2 separate regions of the Homo sapiens genome follow, and region 1 is reported to be linked to region 2. The links are microRNA targets in miRTarBase. Many come from high-throughput screens and were not tested one by one. Region 2 holds a microRNA gene; the other region holds the end of a gene's coding sequence.

Region 1 (5,076 bases), not on the chromosome of region 2:
GTGATAACAAAATTCTTCCTAGTTTCAGGAGTCTCCAGACCTATTTTTGCATGCCCTTTATTTTTCCCTGAGGAAATGAATATTATTTACAGTATTTTGCTACTATTCTCAAGGTATTCTCTGTTATATGTACAATTCTGGCCACTTTTCTCTCAACCTTTGCAAGTGAATGCTGCACTTTGGAGTCTGATGAAGGGGGAACATGGATTCAGCAGTGCCAACTAATTCAGAACCCAGGGCTGCTTTCAAAAGTGTGTCTTAGTGTGACACCAGAAACAGCAGACTTAAAACTCGAGTGCTCTTGAGATTTAATGGAGGACATTTCAGTTTCAAAAATCTTTTGCAACATATACACATGTGACTATCTCTTTGAAAAGTTTTTAGAAAGGTCAAGAATTGTGTCATTCTCTATTGAAAATTTTCATCTGCAATATGGTTATGTTCGGGCAGGAATTGTCTAATAAAAGGGCACCTTGTTGGTGCCTGGAGCTGCTGACAGGCACTTTGCAGCTAAGCGCACACATTCTTGGTCAGAAACCCACAGCTTTTTTCCTGACACTGGCTTTTGCCAACCAAGGGAGAAAACTTTTCAGCTAGTGTGGTGGAGAGAAGTCCATATCTGCTAGAGATGGCCCGCTCAGGCTAGGCACAGCAGCCCTGCACTCTTGGCCGGAGGTACTTCCCTTCAGGTCATTCTCTCCTTGCTTCAGGCAGCTGCTCCCAGAGGAGAAAATGGCAGCTCCCTGGGAGGTACTTAGGGATGGTGACCACCAGCTGATCAGCACCAAGAAGATGAGCAAGAGCCAGGTGTCCACAGCCCTCTTGTACCTCCCCCCTGACTCCCTTGCTACCTGTGTGTTTTCTCCAGGCTGTCACACTGCCTCCCACCCACCAATGCAGCACACATCTGCTGGGAAGGCCCAAGGCTTAACACCACTGCCTGCTGGCCACTCTGCTTTGTCGCTCTCTGGAGAATGTCCTGTCAGTCACTATGAAATGACTTCTTTGGAGAGAGATGAAAAACCTTTTCTGAAGGCTGGGGTGTCAAAGGATAAAAAAAAAATCAAAAGGCTACATCATGCCTTACTTAGAAATATTTTGGGACCAGAATCCATTGTTTTGCATGCCTTTTGCGTAGATTGGCCTCTGAGCTCCCTGCGGTGGCCAGGGCTCCAGTTCCACTGCCAGCCTGCTGTGGGAGCAGTCTGCCCAGTCCTCCCCCTCCTCCCAGCCAAACGAACACACACAGAGAACTTGGTTCCACAGAGATGGCATCAAACGAATGTCTGGTTAATTTGGCACTTCATTTAGTTCCAAAATATAACAAAATAATGCTACGTTTAAAAAAAAAAAACCCTAACTTGCACGATCAGTGGTGTATATTGGAATTCATAGCTTTCTGGGTGGCCTGTAAGGAGTATAATCCCTTTTCTTCAAGACCAGCCACCTGTGGCTTGGTGGTCTACTAGTTATTCCACGCCTTGGTCCAGGGAATATGTGTCTGTGTCCAGGAAGGTACTGAGGGTCTGTCTGCACCTGAAGCCAGAAAAGAAAGTACACAGAGCCGTGGGCTAGCAGGCAGAAAGCAGCCCCAACTTGGGTAGGAGGTACAGAACTGTGTGAAAAATGCTTTAGAAAGGAGAAGAGATCCCAGGGAAGCTACATTCAGCTCTGTAGTTCTGCTTATACCTGTGCACTGGCTGAACACCAGATAAGGACTGAGCTTGGCTCAGCTAAGCTGGAGCTCAGCACTACTTATGGGGTATATATCTGGGGGTGGAAGCCACGGGGCTTTGCTCCAGGACTGCTCCATAGCAAAGATCTCTCCCTCCTTGTGTTTCAAAGTTCTGGGATGGGGGATGGATTTTATACTTCATGACTTGAATCTTTTTCTATTAGTAACAGTCCAACGATCAAGGGCCAGGGAGCTTTGCTGAAGAGAAAAACCTCTGGTCCAGGACTGTACCCTGTCATTTAAACACATGGTGAACTTGTTTAAACAGGTGACAAGCTCTGGCCGCCCAAGGCCACTGGGCAATCTGCCCATGGCTCAGGGCTTCCTGGACCAGGCCAGAGCATCATCTCGCATCAGTGGTGCTGCATGGGGGGTGACAGGACACCAGGAGGAGAAAGGACGTGTTAGAGTAGAGGAAACAAACACATTTCTGCGTTTAAAAAAATGCCATTTCCTGGCTGACCTTGTCAGTCTAAAACATACAGTATTGCTGGTGCTGTGACTAGTACTGATTGGTAATCAAGATGCAAAATTAGATGAAGCTCTTTTTCTCTTCTCTTAAAATAAATGTTTTTAAAGAAAAAAATAAATGAAGAAAAAAACCAGGATCTCTTCCAAGGAGTAATTTTAAAAAATTTATATGAGAGTTTAAAAAATAAAAGTCCCATAATATGTGAATGCACAGATTGTGGATGTTGCACTGTAGAACCTCCTTATACTTTCTTTTGCTTGTATATAAAAAGAATATCTGTCATTACTAGATGTCTTCTTTTTACGCTTAAAAAAGTGTATGTATAATCTCTAGACATATATTAAACTTTCCTCTGTGCAATTTCATTTAACATTCCTATGGCTGATCCCATGTCCCCTGTCCCTATACAGTGCCTCCTATAAGGTGCTCTTCCTACTTTGCATAGGTATAGGAGAAATAACTCTTTAGCAGGGCAATTGAGAGTCGGGTAGATAGAGAATGAGCTTATTTATAGGGCTTGACGACTCCCCTCTCCCCACACCACTATCCCCCAAACAAACAAGCAAGTAAGTTACGAAGCCCAATAAATGGAACATAGTGCAAGCCCTGGCCCTACTAAACTGAGAAATTCCTATACCTACATGCATTTTCCTTTTGGCGTTATGTTCCCTTTTGAGCAAATTCTTAAATGAATAGCTCCAATATTTTTATAAGAAAAACTTAAAGTTTGGACCTTCCATTTACTCACATAATGTTTATATTGTTAATTAACTCATCTCCCGGACATGCTAAAGCATAAAACCTATAAAAGTGCACTCAGAATGGAAGTGGTTTGTTGATCTAACATGACTTTCTGAACAGGTAGGGCCATGTGGGCTGTGCTCTGTTGTCTAAAGCAAACCTGCTGGGACAGTTTGGAGTTCTCTACCTCTTCTGAAATCAGTCAGTGGTGGAGTCTGGAGAGAAGGAAAATGACCCATTAACCTGGCTACAATCTTGACAGACAAGCAGTAACAAATAGCTCCGAGTTGCCATTTGTGTCACATCCCTGAAAGAAGCATCGAGGCTTACCCAGATGGCTACAGGTGCCAATTCTTGACTGAGTTGTGGCAGGTAGAGAGTAGAGTTAGCTGTGCTGCCTTTAGGGGAAGAGCTTCTTATGGATCCAAGGAAGACTCCTAGATGTTTCCCAACAGTGACAGCTGGACTTCCTGAACTCAGCTTCGGGCTGAAGTCTGCTGGTGATTTCCGTGGACAATCCCTTCTCGAGTTTATGCCATCTGGGGCCCTACAAACTAATAGCTCTACCATGGTTCAGTGTGGGGCCATTCTTAAAAGAAAAACAAACAAAAAGCCATAGAAAAGATGCCCAGAGTGCTGCGCTGTCTTGCAACACATCCTGACATATACTGCTCCAAGAAGTCAAATGGAAGATACGGAAAAGATTATTCACAACAAAAGTAAGTATTGATCTTTGTACAAATGCTACTGAATAACCTGTAGCTTGTTTTTTAAGTGTCAAAAAAATCTTGAAAATGGCATAATTCAGAAAGCTTATCAAAATATGCCTCCTTTCTAGGTAAAATGGGCTTTGTTGGTTCAATTGCTACAGAAGTCCACAGTTTTAAGTCTAGACATACAGCAAAAAAAGTTGACTTTTCTTTTGAAGGAAAAAAAACTAGTTATAGCTGCTCCAAGCTGGGTTCTCAGTAAGAGCAACTTTCTTTTGTCATAGGTGGTGACTTAAACAATTTTTCTGTGTTTTTGCTGTTATTCCTCCAAGGTTCCTGAAAGGGCTTTTCCTGGCTTCAACTGTGTTTTATTCAGTAGGAAAAGCTCTTTCCAACACCTGCAGTGGCAGGCCAGGGCAGGAGCGGCTCAGGGCCCTGAGCCCCTCTGCCTGGGGGTCTCTCAGTCGAGGAACCTCTGGCAGGCCTTCTTCCAGCGGCAGGCGGTACACCACATGTCTCGGTTCTCCATCCCGTACACCTTCCGACACTTTTTGCCCTCTCCCCTGGGCTTCCTGTAAGACAGACGAGGAAGGTTAGTTTAGTGGGAGGAATTCAATGGGCATTCTATGGAGAGCTCAAAAATCCCTTGCAAGAGTGAGGGAGGAAAAAAAAAAAAAAAAGGCTGGCCATGGTGGCTCATGCCTGTAATCCCAGCACTTTGGGAGGCTGAGGTGGGCGGATCACCAGAGGTCAGGAGTTTGAGACCAGCCTGTCAACATGGTGAAACTCTGTCTCTACTTAAAACACACAAAAATTAGCCAGGCATGTACCTGTAATCCCAGCTACTCAGGAGGCTGAGGCAGGAGAATCACTTGAACCCGGGAGGTGGAGTTTGCAGTGAGCCAAGATCGCGCTGCACTCCAGCCTGGGAGACAGCGACTTCTCTCTAGGTTCAGACTCTAATATGTGCTGGTTGTTTTCACAGCCACTACACTCAACTGTTAAAATTTGCTACCATATCCCTTAGGCTTCTATTTGTCTACTTGTGGACATGTCCATTTGGGCATCTTCATAAAACTGAATTAAACAAGTAAACACAAGAAATGCCAGTAGAGAGCAACATTGCTCTTTCAAGTTTTTAAGTAGGTACTTTCAAATGCTTCCACCATTCTCAATTTCTAGTACAGCAGTCCCTGCTAAGGGTGGGGAATATGTTCCAAGACCTCCAGTGGATGCCTCAAACTGCAAATAGTACAAACCCTATATATATATTATGCATGACTTTTTCTTTCTTTACAGTTTCATGGATTGAAGATTCATTCTTACTGTCGATCTTCGCAATCTCAGTATAAAAATTTTTTTCTTTCTTTGTTAAGTTGAAAACTTTCACCTTTTCACTTAAAGGAAGCACTTTATAG
Region 2 (5,000 bases):
TAACTCTGAAAAGCATGCAGGGCGATAAACCATGCGTACGTATCTACGGGACCAAATAAAATTCGCAAACCGAAAGCAAACCATAAAACGAGGCGGATGCCACGGAGCATCAGAGTGCCAAACCGCAAACTCATAATACGTCTCAGGGCATCAAAATCATCTCAATTAATGAAAACAAGGTAATAAAAGTGTGAACGATAACATACCGAAAAGAATAAAGAGGCTTTGGGGTGTGACTCTCTTTAGAGACAGCAGAGCAAGGCAGCGGAGGGACAGGGGAGAGGGAGAGGTCAAGGGGGGCGAGTTGCCAATCGTCCACACGAGGAAGACAGTCCCCGCAGGCGTGCAGTGGTTGATGGATGATGAAGTTGTCAGGATGTTAATATTCAAGGGCAGGTTGGTTTCCGGAGAGCAGGGTTTGAGGGGGAATTTTTGTTTTTTATTTGTTTATGTTTTTGTTTTGTTTCAAGCAACAACAGGAAGCAGAAGTACCGTGCAGTCAGTTGGCAAAGAAATTCCGGATCAGGGCAAGAAAAAAAATAGGGAAAGGGGAAGGGGAGAAAAGAAAAAAAGTAGCAAAAAAACACAGGTCAGTAAATACATAAGAATCAGGTAGTGTTCTATCAGTCACACTCCACACACATTCCAGTTACAGGTTTACCTCGACGGGCACACGGTAAGAGAAGCACCTTCACTCACATGCCGGCAGAGACAGCGCTGCTGGAGGGGCTCCCAGAAGCCGATCCCAACCACGCCCCCCAGGAGCGCGCGTGCAGCTCCGCTCGCGGCCACCTCAGCCAAGCCCTGCAGCAGCGCTGTCTCCCGCAGCTGTGGCACAAGTCAGTCTCTAAGGACGATTACAGGCGTGAAGGGAGATCGAGTCTGTTAGTGCACGGCCTCGCTCAGGAGGAGCTGGAGGGACAGCACCCGGCTCGTGGTAAGAGGCACAGGCAGGGAGTGCGTCCTGGGCCCCCGCGAGGGAGGGCCAGGCTGGGCACCGCCTTGAGGAAGTCACAGGAGTTGCCGGGAAACAGAACAGCCTGAAATGCTGATTCCAGGAGGATCCCATCCATCAAGAGTTACATATTTTGGGCCTCTTGTTTCACCCAAGCTCTCCCCGAGGGGAATTTAACCATTCTGGGAAATAACGGATCCACCAGTTAAGTGACAGGCTCTCGAGCCACAGGGGCTGCCCACACCCCGCCGCGCTAACCCTGTGTGTCCCGCTGACCAGCAGGGCGGCCTGCTGGGGCTCTGAACTGCGCGCCCTGCTCAGCTCCAAGTAATTTTTAGATTGCCTTTGGGTAACCAAAAAATAATTCATTCTGCGTATCATGCAAGAGAAAACGCGAACCAAGATGTGAATTCAGGAAAAGAGGAAAACTCAAGCCATCTTGGAAAAGGAGGGTCTCAGCGCTGCAGCAGAGGGGCTGCCAGGGCAGAGGCGCAGACACAGCGAGGGGCGGCGCTGCTCCGGGACCCGAGCCCGAGCACAACATCCCCTGCTCGCTCTTCCGGGAGGAACGGCGGCGCGGAGGAAAAGCCCACGTACCTCTGGGTTGAGGTTGCTGACCAGCAATACAGAATTTCCTGCCCCCGCCAGGCCCGGGATGGCGATCCGACCTGCCGCCGCAGCTGCCGCCGCCGCCGAGGGGATGGCCAGGGGGGCCAGGGCGCCGTGGACGTTCGGAACGGAAAGGCCTGGAAAAGCAGGAGGTGAGATGAGCGGCGGCGCCCCCGACTCCACCGCAGAGTGGGAGAGGCCGACGCTCCCCGTCCTCATGCACCGAGGAGCCGAGCCGCGCGGGAGGCGGCCCTGGCTCTGGCCCTACCCTGGGTGCCTGTGGGGTCGTCCGACCCCCGCACAGCCACCCGCCGGCTCCTGCACCAGCGCCCGCCTCTCCTCACAGCACGGGCCGGGCCGGGCCTGGGCTCATCTGCATGCGCCCCGCCCACAGCACAGAAAAGCTCCGGCTCCGCCAGCACAGACACGGGGCCCTCGGCAAGCAGGGCCCGTCCCGGGACCACCGCGCATGCGCGCCCATGCCTCCATGCAGACGAGGCGGCCGCCGGGCGGCACGCGCTGCTCCGTCCACGGCCAGCACTGGGGCGGCCGGGCCCCGGTCCCAGAAGGGAAGCGGGAGGACGGCCACGCACACACGTCCCGCCGCCGGTCATGCTGCTCAGCCTCGGGCCGCGCGCTTACCAGGCCACTCAAATTCAACTACTAGAGACATCCCTCCAACCACTGGCGGTCCTCGCGCTCGCCCGGAGGTGCTTGAAGGGAACCAGACCACAAAGACTGTGCGATTAGCGGCTTCTGGCTGGCGCCGTCCACACGTGGGCCTCCACAGCCCTGTCCTACCACTGCCCTGGCCAAGCCTGCTCTGTGGACGTGGCGTCCCCTCTCCCGGGAAGGGCCCCTGACCTGGCACTCGAGTGCCCAGTCCGCCCAGGCTGCCGCCGTGGATGCGGAGCTGCCTGGGAAGGTGGTGTGGGCATGCAGTCGCTGGGGAACCAAGACCAAGCGTTTGAATACCTGCAGCTTGAGGAATGGCAAAGGTGGGAGGGAAACCAGCTCCTGCATACGGAGAGGCTGAGATTATACCAGGTGCACCTAGAAATAAATGAGACACTAATCATCGCACCCACAACCTCCACCGCGAGCGGGCGCTGTGCTGCGGGATGGGCCCCAACCCGGCCGGCGGGCGGCCCCGGCAGAGCCTTCGCGGGCAGATCCGCTGCTCCAGGGGGGGCCGTGGTCCCGACGTGGGGGACACTGGACCGTGCTGTGCTGGCCGTGCAGAGAGCAGCAGGTGCATCACCCTGGTGCAGGGCCGGGCCCGTGCCGCCGGGGCTCCGGACTGAGCGGCCCTAATAGACCACTCTGCACACTGGCGCCGCGTCGGGCAGCCTCTTACCGAAGGCCGCGGCCATGGTCTGGTCCAGCGAGGGCTGGCTGTCCCCGGAAGGCAGGTCTGGGCGTGTGTAGTCACGGCTCTTGTCATTGTTGTACTTGACGTTGAGGCTGGTGAGCTTGGAAAAGTCGATGCGCAGCGTGCAGCAGGCGTTGTAGATGTTCTGCCCGTCCAGCGACTGAGGGGAGAGGGACCGTGAGACGTCGCCGGGCCAGGGCCAGGGCGGGCGCCGTCCCGGGAGCCCCACTCACCAGCTTGGCGTGCTGGGCGCTCACGGGGTCCGCATACTGCAGCAGGGCCTGGAACTGGTTGTTCTTGGTGAAGGTGATGATCTTCAACACTGTGCCGAACTTGGAGAAAATCTGCAGGTCCCGGGCCACAGCATGAGCTCCTGCCCGGTGCCCACCAGCCCTGCCAGGCCCCTCCCGTGTGCCTGTGCCCACAGCAATAGCAGCCGACCTGCCCTGGCGGTGATGGGACCACCTCACCTGGTGCAGCACATCCAGGGTCACAGGGTAGAAGAGGTTCTCCACGATGATCCTGAGCACGGGGCTCTGCCCGGCCATCGCCATCCCTGCGTCCACGGCCGCCGCCGAGGCAGCCAAGGCCAGGTTCCCCGACTGGACCGAGTTCACCGCCTGCAGGGCCGCCTGGGCCCGCTGTGGGAGGCACAGCCGTGAGTCCCCGGCCCCTGCGGCTGGGCCCACCCCCGAGGTCCCCGGGCTGCTGGGGTCCGCCGCGGGGCCACGCACCGCCTGGTTGGGAGAGCTGTCGGTCTTCAGCTCCTTGTGGTTGGAGAACTGGATGTAGATGGGCTGGCCGCGCAGCACAGGGGTCACCGAGGTGTAGTAGTTCACCATGGTGTTGGCAGCCTCCTCCGTGTTCATCTCGATGAAGGCCTGTTGGGGAGGCAGTGAGCGCTGGGCCCTCCTCGTCCCCGCCTGCACGGTGTGAGCACCCCGGAGAAACGCGGCTCAGGTACCTGGTTTTTCCCCTTCAGCATCAGGAGGTTGGTGACCTTCCCAAAGGGCAGCCCCAGGGAGATGACTTCCCCCTCCGTGACGTCGATGGGGAGCTTCCGGATGTGGATCACTCTAGAGGGGACGCCTGCACTTCGGCTGTCACCTTTGAACTTCTTGCTGTCATTTCCGTTTGCTGAAAAGGGGGTGCCATGAGATGCAGGCACCAACTCGCAGGAGCCCACAGAGGAAGGTCCCTGCTATCCCCCTAGAGCCCTGCCTGCTACGGAGACCAACCCTGAGCCCCAGGAGGGTGCATGTGAACCAGCAGCGCGAGAGGCCAAGACCTGCACAGTCAGGACCCCTGCTCCCGACAGCTCCTGACAACCCGCCCACAGGTCCAAGTGCCAGCCTGGACCATCCATCCAGCGCCTCCCTGGAAATTCTCTGCAGCGAGAACTTGGACCTGGGTCTGTAGCGTGGACCATGGGCCCCTGCAGTTGGAGATGGAAAGTAGAGTCCCAGAACAAGAACGTAACGTTGTTCCAGGGAAAGACACCCACGGGTCTTGCCCTGGGCCGAGTCCCGGCCTTACCTGCAGAAGCCGAGTTGCTGCTCATGATAAACGGTCCGTTAGTGACACAAGTAGAGAAAAGCTCGTCAGATCCCCGCTGCAAGAGAAGGGACAACGCGGAGCTGCACTTCCCACCAGGCCAGAGCCTCCCTTCCCCACCGGCCGGCCCTGCTCCCACTTGGGCTGCCTGGGGTCCCAGACCCCCAACCCATACCCACACCCACACTTCCACGGCAGGGCAGCCTGAGCGCAGACCCAGCCCATGGACGCGCACGGCACCCCACAGCTCCACGACCAAAACACTGCTCCTTTTTCCAAATTCTGGAAGCCCTGGGTACTCAGCCAGTGTGGGGCTGGGAGGCTCTCAGCTACGGAGGGCACCACGTACACTATCTCCACGGCCAACTCTGCTGTGGACGTGGCCTCACTGTGCTGCCAGCGGCCCTGGGCACAGGCCTGGGGCCTCAGCCACCAGCCAGCAGGGCAGAGGACCCCCTCCATGGAGCCAGCCCCCCCAGCAGCACACGGCAGGGCCCAGGCAGCCGTCCT

The links. The annotated mature microRNA hsa-miR-4745-3p reads UGGCCCGGCGACGUCUCACGGUC and lies in region 2 at 3,110-3,132, opposite strand. An mRNA with a match to its seed (bases 2 to 7 or 8) in the 3' UTR can be bound and repressed. Matches are read on the target gene's strand: a 7mer-m8 pairs with bases 2 to 8, a 7mer-A1 pairs with bases 2 to 7 and ends in A, and an 8mer does both.
Region 1: miRTarBase lists ZNF704 as a target of hsa-miR-4745-3p. Seed matches in the 3' UTR shown: 7mer-A1 at 630-636.

What each region holds. Positions count from the first base shown.
Region 1 is chr8:80,637,248-80,642,323 of GRCh38, forward strand. ZNF704 (zinc finger protein 704) reads right to left here. Exons shown (of 9, transcript NM_001033723.3): 9 at 1-4,230. The coding sequence ends at 4,119. Among named protein-coding and RNA genes, the nearest start is that of LINC02986, 100 kb to the left of the region's middle. RefSeq lists an enhancer at 3,089-4,288.
Region 2 is chr19:803,109-808,108 of GRCh38, reverse strand. It overlaps MIR4745 (microRNA 4745), which reads right to left and starts at 3,169; the gene lies at 3,108-3,169. It overlaps PTBP1 (polypyrimidine tract binding protein 1), which reads right to left. Exons shown (of 15, transcript NM_002819.5): 3 at 4,473-4,548; 4 at 3,901-4,073; 5 at 3,671-3,817; 6 at 3,407-3,577; 7 at 3,170-3,280; 8 at 2,922-3,096; 9 at 2,540-2,617; 10 at 1,553-1,701; 11 at 207-240. RefSeq lists an enhancer at 4,352-4,874.